Linked DNA regions of Homo sapiens. The protein of the gene in region 1 interacts with the protein of each later gene in a pairwise test. Each region holds a gene or a part of one and is shown in the gene's direction. Other genes may lie near its edges. The genes, in order: ELAVL3 and RNF32.

Region 1 (6,505 bases):
CCACTGTCCCCACCCCTCACCATCCATGCCCCTGATGCACCCCTCCCCAGCTCACCCCCAGGGCTGCAGGCTTAGCCTTGTTTGCCTGGGTCTTGGAGTAGCATGGCCATTGAGAGATGTGACATCAAAGCCAGACGTGGTGGTTCTCGCCTGTGCTCCCAGTGTTTCGGGAGGCTGAGGGGCAAGGAGCACTTGAGGCCAGGAGTTCAAGATCAGCCTGGGCAACATAGTGAGATCCTTCTCTACAATTTTTTTTTAAGGATTAGCCTGATACGGTGGTGCATGCCTGTAGTTCAGGCTACTCAGGAGGCTGAGGCGGGAGGATCGCTTGAGCCTAGGAGTTGGAGGCTGCAGTGAACTATGATGGTGCCACTGCACTCCAGCCTGGGTGACAGAGCGAGACCTTATCTCCAAAAATTAAAAAATGTGGCTGGGCGCGGTGTCTCATGCCTGTAATCCCAGCTACTCAGGAGGCTGAAGCAGGAGAATCGCTTGAACATGGAAGGAGGAGGTTGCAGTGAGCTGAAATCGTGCCACTGCACTCCAGCCTGGGCAACAAGAGCGAAACTCCATCTCAAAAAAAAAAAAATAATTAAAAAATGTAAAAGAAGATCTCAGTCTGAGTCTAGTGGGGGAGGAGACAGAGAAATGAATGGTGATGAAAGCTGTGAAGTAGAAGGGGTAACAGAGGCCGGGCGCGGTGGCTCACGCCTGTAATCCCAGCACTTTGGGAAGCCGAGGCAGGCGGATCACGAGGTCAGGAGTCCAAGACCAGCCTGGCCAAGATGGTGAAACCCCATCTCTACTAAAAATACAAAAATTTAGCTGGGCACGGTGGCAGGCGCCTGTAATCCCAGCTACTCGGGAGGCTGAGGCAGAGAACTGCTTGAACCCAGGAGGCGGAGGTTGCAGTGAGCTGAGATCGTGCCACTGCACTCCAGCCTGGGCGACAGAGTGAGATTCCGTCTCAAAAAGAAAAAAAAAAAAGAAGGGGTGACGGAGACCCAGCAGCAGAGACCCCCCAGTCCCATCTGAGGCAACATCCACACAAAGGCAGAGTGGAAAGGGAGTTCCTAGCAGTGGGAAAAGCCTGTGCAAAGAGGGCCAGAAGGAGCGAGTAGTTTGTTCCTCGTGGTCAGGATTGAATGGTTCAGGCCCTTGGGTCCTCCCTTCCCAGCTGAGGGGTTTAATCCAAGGGCGGGATTGCCAGTGAGGAATGTGAGTGGAGCCAATTCTGTCCTTTCATTAATTCATTCAACAGACACCTCCCAAGTGCTTACTAGGTGTTGTTCAGGGGCTGGAACAAACTCTTGCAGGGAAGATGAAGTTGATGATAATAAATATATGATTTGAAAAGGAAAGCCGGGTGCAGTGGCTCACACCTGTAATTTCAGCACTTTGGAACTCCAAGGTGGTAGGATTGCTTGAGCCCAGGAGTTCGAGACCAGCCTGGCTAACGCAGCGAGACCCCACCTCTACAAAAATTTTTAAAAATTAGCGGGGCATGGCTGGGTGCGGTGGCTCATGCCTGTAATCCCAGCACTTTGGGAGGTCGAAGCGGGCGGATCACCTGAGGTCGGGAGTTCGAGACCAGCCTGATCAACATGGAGAAACCCCATCTCTATTAAAAATACAAAATTAGCTGGGCGTGGTGGCAGGTGCTACTCGGGAGGCTGAGGCAGGACAATCGCTTGAACCTAGGAGGCAGAGGTTGCAGTGAGCTGAGATCATCCCACTGCACTCCAGCCTGGGCAACAGAGCAAGACCCCGTCTCAGAAAAAAAAAAAAAAAAATTAGTGGGGCATAGTGGTGCACCTGTAGTCCCAGCTACTTGGGAAGCCAAGGCAGGAGGATTGCTTGAGCCTGAGAGTTCGAGACCAGCCTAAGCAACATAGTGAGACTGTGTCACCACAAATCATAAAAAAAATTAGCTGGGTGTGAGGGCGCCTGCCTACAGTCCCAGCTGCTCAGGAGGCTGAGGCGGGAGGTTTGCTTGAGCCCAGGAGGTCAAAGCTGCAGTGAGCCATGATTGCACCACTGCACTCCAGCCTGGGTGACAGAGCGAGACCGTGTCTCTAAAAAAAAAAATTGCATTGCAGGGGTCACACCATTCCAAGGTCATGGCACAGTCAGGGGTCATAAAGGTGTGAAGGGTCACAACGGGGTCAGAAGCATGCGGGGGGTCAGGGCAGAGCCCGCGTGACCCCCAAAGTAGTCCCCTGTCGCTCATCGCCAGGTTCTCGCCGATCGCCATCGATGGTATGAGCGGCCTGGCGGGCGTGGGCCTGTCGGGGGGCGCGGCGGGCGCCGGCTGGTGCATCTTCGTGTACAACCTGTCACCGGAGGCAGACGAGAGCGTGCTGTGGCAGCTGTTCGGGCCTTTTGGGGCAGTCACCAACGTCAAGGTCATCCGTGATTTCACCACCAACAAGTGCAAGGGTTTCGGCTTCGTGACCATGACCAACTATGACGAGGCGGCCATGGCCATCGCCAGCCTGAACGGCTATCGCCTGGGCGAGCGCGTGCTGCAGGTCTCCTTCAAGACCAGCAAACAGCACAAGGCGTGAGCCCACCCCGCCTGCCCTCCCACCCCCTCCCCGGGCAGCAGAGAGAGAGAGAGAGAAAGAGAGAGAGAGAGAGAGAAGGGGCCCAAGAGAGACAGCACAGGCAGCCCCACGGACGACGCGAGGGCCCCACGTCCCTGCGGAAGCCACAGGGTGAGCACTCTGGGGTGGGAGGGTCTGCAGGGAATTGGGGGGGTGCCCGGGGATCCCCCGCCCCATCCTCCTGCCCCCACCCCAGGCTGGGCTGTTCACTCTCTCGTCTTGGTTTGGTTCATGGTGAAGGTTTTTGTTTCTTTTTTCGGCTAAAAAGAATGCAGAGATGTGCCCCCACCCCCACCCTCGACCACCCCCGATGGGATGGCTTGGGGGGCTCCAGGGGGTGCCCTCCCAGACCCCCTTGCCCAGGCCTCCCCAGCACCTAGGTGGGGCCTGGGGTAGGAGGAACAGGTTTAAAAATCCCCAAAAAAGCGAACCGTGAGGAGGGGTGTGGGCACCCCCGGCCCAGTGCCCCCTGGTGGAATGCGGGGGAGCAGGCAGTGGGGCTGGAAGCAGAAACAAAATGAAAAAAAAAGGGGGGTGGGAGGGGAAGAAAAACTCTATTTTTGTAAAAAGGGAAAAAGACCTCGTGGAGAATTTTTACTGGGGATTCTTGAACTTGAAAAAAAAAAACACAAAAAAAGACAAAAAAAAAAAAAGAAAATATTTTGGCAGGTTATGTTTACCAACTGGGGCGGGGGTGGGGGGGGCCCAGGGAGCAGGGCTTAGGGGCTAGCAGCCCACGGGGCCACACAGAGAAACAACCACGCAGACAGTCACACCACGGGGACACACGGACAGACGCAGACGGACACAGCGACATGCCCCAGACACGTTAAGGGACTGGTTGGCCAAACTCAGACACGTGGACAGGGATAGACAGAAAGAGACAGAAGCTGGGGCTACGTCCATGTGGACACAGACCACAGATGTGGGCACACGAATCCATCCACCTGTCCACGTGCACACGTGAATGTAGCGATAGATATTTGGACATCAAATTTGGACACCAGGTCACGGAGAAACACAAACACCACCCAGGAACACGCAGACATATGCCCATAGCATCCCACAGGCCCAGGCAGGAGGTCCCACCCCAGACCCTGCCCCAGACGCTCCCTCACCCTCTCGGCCCCCTCGCCCTGGCCCCCAGGTTCTCTGCAGAGATCTCTCCTGGACCCCCAGCGGTCTCCTTGGCGCCCACGAACACAGGCGTGCACACGCAGCGCACATGCATTGAGACACACGATACCTCGTTCCACCTTGGCGTCACGGTGGGCTGGAGGCAGCCCCCCCCCCCACAACACTTGAGGCCAAAGGACACCCCTGTCCCCGGGGCTCAGCCTCCCCCTGGGCCGAGGCCTTGGCCCACACAGCTGAGGGAGAGGCCCAGCCCTGAGCCTCCCCCACCAGGACTGGGCCTCCCCGGCAGCAAGACCCCGGCACTCCCCGCCAGGCCCAGGGTGGGGTGGATGGGCCCAAAGGCCCAGCCCCACACTCCTTTCCCGTCCACTTGTCACCTACCTATCCCCTTTCGGTTTGTTGGGTTTTTCGTCTTTCCAGATTGCAGTGGACACAGCCCCCGATCTCGAGCCCCGGCCCCCGGCTTCTGTCTGGACATTGCATCGCCCTAGTTTTCTTTCTTTAAAAAAAAAAAATTCCAACAGAAGCCACAGGCCGGAGCCCCTGGGAGCCCTCGCACCGCTCCCCACCCCACTCAGCGGCCCCATCGGAACTGAGAATTGCAAAACCCCCGACTTTAGCTATAGTTAAGTTGCCTTCCCCCGGTGTCCCCACGTTTGGTGTCTGGCTATGGCGCCCCCATCTGACTGTCCAGCTCTCTCTCCCCCACCCCTCCCGGTGTTGTTATTAAACGTCTGTGGAGCTTCTGCTGCAAGGAACAAAAAAGAAAAAAATCAAAAAAGCGACAAAAAAACACAAACAGAAGAGGAAAAAAAAGCAACAAAAAAAGAAAACACACAGAAGAGATTTAAAAAAAAAAAAGGAAAAAAAAAAAAGACATAAACTGGCACCAGTTAACTTTCTTGTACTTTTTTGCTGAATTTAGCTTCTTGTAGTTTTAACTTATTGCTATGTTAACTATTTATTCTCCTCGTTGCCCTGTAAGGACATCCGTGTATATTTCTGTTACTTCATCCGGTTTGCAAGTTAAAGGAACGACAATGTTCTCTTTGTTTCTTTAAGTTTTGCCGAGACATGGTTATGCCTAATTTATTTATAAAAGGGGAAGTGGAATCATTAAAGTAATAATAATTATTAATAACAGTAATGGTAGCCGAGTGGCACGCGGGGGCGTGTGCTCTGCGGGACAGTCCCCACGGCCAGCGACGTCCAGGTCACCAATGGGATTCTTTTTGCTCTTGTCTTGAGAATTTTTTCAGTCCTATTTAGCTGGTGAAATCCCTAGCTTGTTCTTGATACACGAACCTATTTATTCTCGTGGTTTTAAGTCCTCCCTGCCCTCTCTCCTCTCCCCTGCAGCAGGGCAGGGACCCCTCTCCCCTGCTGTCTCTTGGGGCTCTCTCCCCTCCGCCCTCTGCATTCGGGAACACGCACGTCCGCGTGGGAAGCTTGCAGCAGGGCGTCCGAGCAATAAGGGCTGGGTTTGTCCCCCACCCTGGGGGGGGCCAGGCTCCAGAGAGGGGGCACCTCCCCACACACCCCCCCCCCACCGAGGCCTAGGCCCCTGCCACCCCCAAGACTGGGAGGGGACTTCTTTTTCTAAAACACAAAACTCAGCCCAGCCAGGCCCCCTCCCTGGAGGCCAGCCCCTCCCCGCAGGGGGCCAGGCCGGGGCTCCCAGGCGAGGGGGACTTGGGGCTTCCACGTCCCTGGGGGGCAGGGGCCAGGCCAGGGGGGAGGGGGCTCAGCCCCTCCACCCCTCCCTTCATCCTGTTATTTATTCGGAAGGTTTCAAATCACGACAGAGTCCATGTTGGAGGTGATAAAAAACTGTAAAAAAAAAAAAAAAAAAAAAGACAAAACAAAAGACAAAAAAAAAAAAAAAACCCAACAAGAACACTTCGCGTTGCGTTTAGACTATTTATTACCGGGATCACAGGCCTGGCCGCGGTAACAGACTTTTACATGGAATTGTTTAATTATTTGTACTTTTCATGCCAGAAAATAAAAGTTCAGAATCTTAAGGCCTTGGGTGATCTCTGCACCGCTGCGCGGGGAGCACGCAGGAGCAGCCTGTGTAGTAGCGCCCAGGCCCCCGTCCTTCTCTGGGCCTGGGTCTGTCTGCAGCAGGGGCTTTGGCCCCGGGAGGGAACCCTTGGCCTCCACAGAGCACAGATGAGACCCAGGGAAGGTGGGACACGGGCCCGGATGGATGCTCAAGACAGAAATGGTCCAGGGTCCATCCACCTGGTATCTTCAGGAGTGATCCCCAGATGGTGGGGGAGGCCCGGGTGGGATCTGCAGAAAGCTGCGTCCCCTGCGCTCAACCCCTGCCCACACCCCGGTCCACACCCCAGCAAAGCGAGGCAGACACAGACAAGTTTGGGTGGGGGATCACATTTATTGTATTGAGGTCACAGGTCAAGTCATTCACTAGTCCCCACTAGGAGGGGTGGCAGGGACAGGGCTGGGGGTGGTGGGGCGAGTCACCAAGGTGGGGGGCCCAGGGAGGGCAAGCTCCTTTACCCATCTTTGAAGGCTGTTGGGGCCTGGGAATGTGGACCAGCCCCGCCTGGGCCCCAGAGCAGGGCACGAAGCCCCACAAAGGTCCTGCCGCCACAGAGGAGGGCAACAGAGCCACAGGCAGGCCCAGAGGGGCGGGTGGACGGCACTGCAGGGGCTGGCTTCATGCCTTCTTGAGGTTCTGGGGCAAGAGAAAGACCAGATTAGAAAGCTGGGGACAGCTGGACATGGTGATGTTT
Region 2 (6,141 bases), on another chromosome or scaffold:
GATGTTTGCGGTACAGGCGGTCCTGTCGCCCAGCTCATGAGCACAGTCCCCAACAGTTAGTTTTTCAGCCCGTGTCCCTCCCCAGTCGTCCTAGTATCTCATGTCACCATCTTTATGTCCACGTACTTGAAGAAACTTAAGTCGTGTAGAGTATGTTCCCTGACCACGGTGCAGCTGAGGCTAGAAATAAATTTTTTTTAAAAAAATAGAACTATCTCACGTTTGAAAATAAACGGTTCTAAATAACGTATTAATCGAAGACAAAATTATAATGGAAATGAGAAGAAATTTCAGTTGAATAGCAAAAGTACATATCAAAACTTGTGGAATGGAATATTTCATCAAAACTTGTGGAAAGGAATATTTGCGTCTGCCATGCTAGGTTTTCTTCTGTGGAATCAAACACCTGAGTGTGGAATTAGTTTGTGATTCTTATGTATATTAAAATATCCTAAGCATTTATTTGCTTTCTTGCTATATTACACCAGTTACCATTAAGACTGGAGCACTAAGTGTTAAGGGCCACCCTCCCTGAGATTTATTTGGTATATATGCAAAACTGACAAGTCTGTTTCTTTCAACAAGTGCCTACTATGGTCGGTGCGTGTACTGAGCTCTTGAGAGGGTTTAAAGGCAGGGTGTGACGACGACAGGTGCAAAACCCTTTAAAAACCCTGGATGCTATTACCAGCGTTAAGAACAGTCCTGGCCCCAGGACTAATAAAGGAGATAGGACCTGTATGCCACAGTGACTGAGGCAGAAGGAGGCAATAGGTGACATCAGTATTGGACCTCAGGGTCTTTGTCATCAATAGGGCCACTTAGGAGTCACCCAACACAGTTGTTCAGAGCATATGAGCTCTATTTCCATCTAAAGTGTTTGAAGGAAAATGTACTTTAAAAAGTCCTAATGATGCTGTCTTTGGAAGTTTATCTTGAGCTAAGTAACTCATTTATGTAACATCAGGACAGCTGGGATTGCTCCAGGCATCCTGTAGAGAGAGCGATACACTCACGTATGATAGAATATATGCACACACAGGTGACACTGTAACATAAATGCATATAGATGTACATACATATTTATATGTGGCCCGCACACTTACTCTGTTCCTCTCTCAAGTGGCTTCTGAAAGCGCACGCACAGCGATACCCATGCTTGGAGTTGGGAGGTGACACCTCCAGGAATGATAACTAATGCTGTGTTAAATAACTTTGCATATTTAAAAATGTGATCGGTAACTTCTATGACCGTGGTTCTTAAACCTGAATGGGCCTCAGAATCACCTGGAGGGCTGTAAAGCATATCGCAGGGCTCACCCCGCGGACTGTGGCCTCGGCAGGCCCGGGGCAAAGCCTGAAAAGCTCTGCTTTTCTCACAGATTCCCAGGAGCTGAGGCTGCGGGGTCTGGGCCCCACCTTGAGAATAAACACCCAGATCATATCGATCATTTCATTCAATTGATCAGTCATTCCAAATAGTACTTTTATGTCCAAAACTAATCTCAGAACATACCTCACAAGTTGAAACACTTTGCAAGGTCTGGACTAGAATGTGACCCTTTTTCTGAGGTATAATTTTGAAGGAAGAAAAGATCTTGCTTTTCAGGCATATGTGGAAAGTATCTCACACTTAAAAACAATTTACAGAAAACCTGAATTACAAAGCATCAATTGGAGGTAACTGTGTATATTTCCAAGTAATTTTTCCTTTTACAATGTATAGAGAACTCTTCTACTTTCAATAATTTATTTAGATATTATTAGATATTTGAAAGGCCAAGGAATAAAGAAAATTAAAATTAAAGCCTTAGGAAACGTTACCGATTCAAGACCCTAAATTAAGATACAGCTGCTTGGCAATTATAATTACATTCAGAGTGAAAGAGAATTTGACTCATAAATAGAAAAGCAGCTTCCACCAGGCTTCCAAGTACGGCTAATCCCAAAACACAGGTGCCTGGAAGATCCTCAGCCACCCCCTTCATTCAAACCCCAACCCTTGTGGACTGCCTGCTGTGTTCACAGAATGTTCTTTACTCAAAAGGACCTCTCATCCTTAAAGCCAATACTCATTCTTCTAACATCCCAGGGAGAAAGGCAGCTCATAGTCTCCACAGCACTCGACCCTGCGCTGTCTCACGATCTTTTTGCAGAAGGGAGAGAATTGGAAGAGAACTCCATGTCCTCAAAGGCACCTTCAGAAGTCTGGTGATTTAAATACACACTACGTTCTGCCAGGTTGCTCCACATTAATAAAAAAAAAAAAAAAAGAAAAAGTGAACGTGAGGACTCCAGTAGACTAGAATATTTGAAACCTGGACAGTCATGGACCATCCAAAATGCATTTTCCCCATCACATATCTAAATGTGTGAGATCTCCACGGGACTTGTTCATTTCATCCTTCTTTGTGCTTCAAGCCGGATTCCATGAAGCAGATGTAACTGCTGAATCGGCACTTCTCACTGCTGGACAAATAACCCCCCGAATTTCAGTGACTGAAAGCCAGAGCTTCGGTCTCATAGGACAGTTCAGGTGTCCTGGCTTGCAGGCAACATGCCAGCCTGTGGGGCTCGGGAACTGTCTCCCTCTGCCCTTTATCTGCCACCCCCCGGGCCTGGAGAACACCCAGAAGAGACATGAGCCACGTCCATCTGGAAGAACTACTTCACGTGGCCCCACCTGGGCATGGGGGAATGGGAAATGTCATCTCTGGGTGAGCCACAGCTCTGTACTTGAAAGGACAAGCAAGAGGGCAGGAAGTGTGGCTGACAGTCACCATTGGCACAACCTTTTACACACCTTATTCTCCTTTGCTTTACACTCTTCACATGTACTAAAAAGGAGCCGCTGGTGTGGCCCTGAATGAGCCACCTACCCGTGCCTCAGATGACACTGGTGGCCACTCTGTAATGACTCAGACCTTTCTAGTGTAGGATGGCTTGAGCCCGGGAGGCCGAGGCTGAGTGAGCATTGATGGCCCCAAGCACTCCAGTTTGGGTGACAGAGCGAGATGCTGTCTCCACCAAACCAAACAAAAATACCAAAAAAAACAAAGTACTGTATTCAATTAATAAACGTTGAAGTGATAATATTTTGGATCTGTTGGGTCAGATACAATATTAAAATTAATTTCACCTTTTAAAAAACTTAATGTGACTGCCAGAAATTTTAAAATTACATACGTAGCTCACAGTATGTTTCTATGGGACAGAGCTGATCCTGCGAAATTCGAACTTTTCTCTCAACTTTTAATTTCAAATGTGTTCCTGCTAATGGTCAAAGCTCACAACCAAGAAAACAGCAGGGGAGGGAAACAATATACCCTTTTCCCCTACCCTCCTAAATTCTTCAGCTGGAGCCCTGTAAGTTAAGCTTAACGAGAAAATTACACGGATTTACTTAGTAAGTCCCATGTGGTATGGAAGCCTTCCTAAGGCAGCGCAGACCGGAAGAGATAGTGCAGACCCGAAGAGGCAGCGGCGACCCGAAGGGGCAGCGGAGACCCGAAGAGACAGTAACGCCTGAGCGCTTTCTATGCTAGGTTGGATGAGGACACAGAGGTCGTGGGGAAGCATGACAGGACAAGGGGTGAGCTGAGGGTGGTCGGTGGGAACCACGGCAAGGCCTGTGTGCTGTCTCCTCCCGGCTCCCTCCGTCTTTGGAGACGAGGGTGCCTCTCACAGGAGGGTCCTGTGACCCACTTTAGGGGTGGGGAGAGGTCAGACGGTCCCTCCTGCAGCTGTCATTTCTCAAATTCCTTTGGGAAGGAATGTTTTTTCCTTAAAATATTCAGTATGCCAAGGTGCCGTATTTTGGGGTAGTGTGTTCTGGACTCCATCAGATAGGGGTTCTTGTGGTCATCTGTCCAGATTATCTGGATTTATAGTTAAGTAAAATAGACATATATCTATTTCCCTAAAAAGTATTATTCGAAGACAGAGACGAGGAAGGTTACCAAAATAGATGGTCAGGCTCGAGAGCGCTTCCCTGCAACCTCCACCGAGCTCAGGTGTGAGCTTACCCGCCCCCGCCTCCTCCTCAGTTCACAGAAATCAGCCACCGCATCCTGTGCTCATACAACACCAACATTGAAGAGCTCTTTGCAGAAATCGATCAGTGCTTGGCCATAAATCGAAGTGTTCTTCAGCAGTTGGAAGAAAAATGTGGCCATGAGATCACAGAAGAGGAATGGGAGAAAATCCAAGTGCAGGTAGGTTTGGCTGGCAGCCTGGCAACCAGCAGACTCAGCTGCAGCTGCAGAGGCTGTGGGGAGTGGCATGTGGGGGGAGGTCGAGGACTCACTTTGGGGAGCCTAGGAGTGTCAGGCCCGGGGTGCAGCCGTGGAGGCTGTGGGGGTGGCATGTCGGGGGAGGTCGAGGACTCACTTTGGGAAGCCTAGGAGTGTCAGTCCCGGGGTAACCGCTGCCCTAGCTGCCCCTGCACCTGTGGTAGGACTTTCCTCATGGGCTTTAGGGTGACGGCAAAGGTCCCTTCAGTTTGAAATTCTGGAAGTTCCTGTTGGATGTTGCTTATCACAGGTGGGTTACTAACCCTTTCCACAGTTCCCAGGAGTAACAGAGTATATGTGTGTGTATATATATATGTATATATATAAATAAAATGCATGTGATTTTAACACAGAATGAAACTTCCGCATGTTTCGAAGACCCATGTCTCGGGGCACATGGTTCGCATTTCAGTTTAAGTAACTTTCTGCTGTGATGAAACTAACCCGCGTGGCCTCTTCCCGTCCTGTGTGCCGCAGGCTCTGCGCCGGGAGACCCACGAGTGCTCCATCTGCCTGGCCCCTCTCTCCGCTGCTGGCGGTCAGCGCGTGGGTGCAGGCAGGCGTTCCAGAGAGATGGCCCTCCTGTCCTGCTCACATGTGTTCCACCATGCGTGTCTGCTGGCACTAGAGGAGTTCTCCGTGGGAGACAGGCCTCCTTTCCATGCCTGTCCTCTCTGCCGCTCCTGCTACCAGAAGAAGATTCTTGAATGTTGAATTCATAGTCAAGGAAAGTTAGGTAATTCTGAGGAAAAAAGTTTACCATCATTTTGGATGAACTGCATGAGTTCTGGGTTAAGTACTACAATGTAATCTGTTTCCCAGGGAAATAAGCTATTGGTAGTTGTAGGAAATCTTAGTATATTTTAAAAGCTGACATCCCACCTAATTTTAATCTTTGGTCTCTAAAAAGTAAATTTCAAATTTATGAGTTTAATCACTTCAAATATGAATAGCAAAAAATGAGAGCTTGCTTACTTCTAAAAATTGAGGTTAAGATATAGCTAGTGTCTGAACGACACTCCTTAAAGTAAGTTCCAAATGTAAAACACTCCTTAAGTTCCAAATGTTTTCCGCTAATAGTCTGTCCTAAAGCCTTTGCCATTCCTAATACTCGTTTTGTAATAATTGCTGTATTTCTGTGTAATAAAATATAAAAATAAAATATTCAGTGGTATTCAACATCAAAAAAGTGCAAATTTTAATGTCTTAGAGCAATAAAGACTGTTTTAGTTCACACATTTTAAAAAAAAGTGAACCTTTTTGGATAAGAATTGTTTTTGTCACTGGTTTACTATTACTGGGAGCTTGGTTATTTACAGTAACCAGTTACAGTCTCATCGGTTAGGTTACCCCTAGCCGAGTAACAGATAAAGCCCCAACTCTCAGTGGCTCGCTGAAGACACATGATTTCTGAGGTGTCCAACCCATGTCAGCCATGGGTGAGGCAGGGCGAGGGTACACCATGTGTGACCCTGGCTCCTTTTGTCTTGTGACACAGTCTCCTTTGCCCCCGAGTCCCCAGTGAATCCTGTCACTGCTGGTGGAGGGGCAGGAGGACATTGTTCCAGGCCATGCTTGGGAGTGGCGCTCATCACTCCAGCCACAGTAACTACAAGGGGCAAGGAAAGGGCAGGGTGTAGGCCTAAGAGGAAGAGGCCAAGTGGGTGTGCACATGGCATGGGCTCAGAATAACCCAGCATCTAATGTGAGAAGAAATGCCAAAATTTCTATTTATTCTTATCTCATCCCTTAGAAAAAATACTCTCCTATGTTTTGTGATGTACACATTATATAGCTACATATGTATGTATCATTTATGAATAAATATGCATATATTGGGATGTGCTCA

The links.
Region 2: the proteins of ELAVL3 (region 1) and RNF32 interact in a two-hybrid assay, tested with the Homo sapiens proteins (one study listed by BioGRID and IntAct).

What each region holds. Positions count from the first base shown.
Region 1 is NC_000019.10:11,450,588-11,457,092, reverse strand, and holds the end of ELAVL3 (ELAV-like protein 3), read left to right. Parts: intron 1-2,215; coding exon 2,216-2,567; 3' UTR 2,568-5,767; downstream 5,768-6,505. UniProt on the Homo sapiens protein: RNA-binding protein that binds to AU-rich element (ARE) sequences of target mRNAs, including VEGF mRNA. May also bind poly-A tracts via RRM 3. May be involved in neuronal differentiation and maintenance.
Region 2 is NC_000007.14:156,671,650-156,677,790, forward strand, and holds the end of RNF32 (RING finger protein 32), read left to right. Parts: intron 1-4,046; coding exon 4,047-4,214; intron 4,215-4,645; coding exon of another isoform or gene 4,646-4,726; exon of another isoform or gene 4,727-4,769; coding exon 4,770-5,006; 3' UTR 5,007-5,481; downstream 5,482-6,141. UniProt on the Homo sapiens protein: May play a role in sperm formation.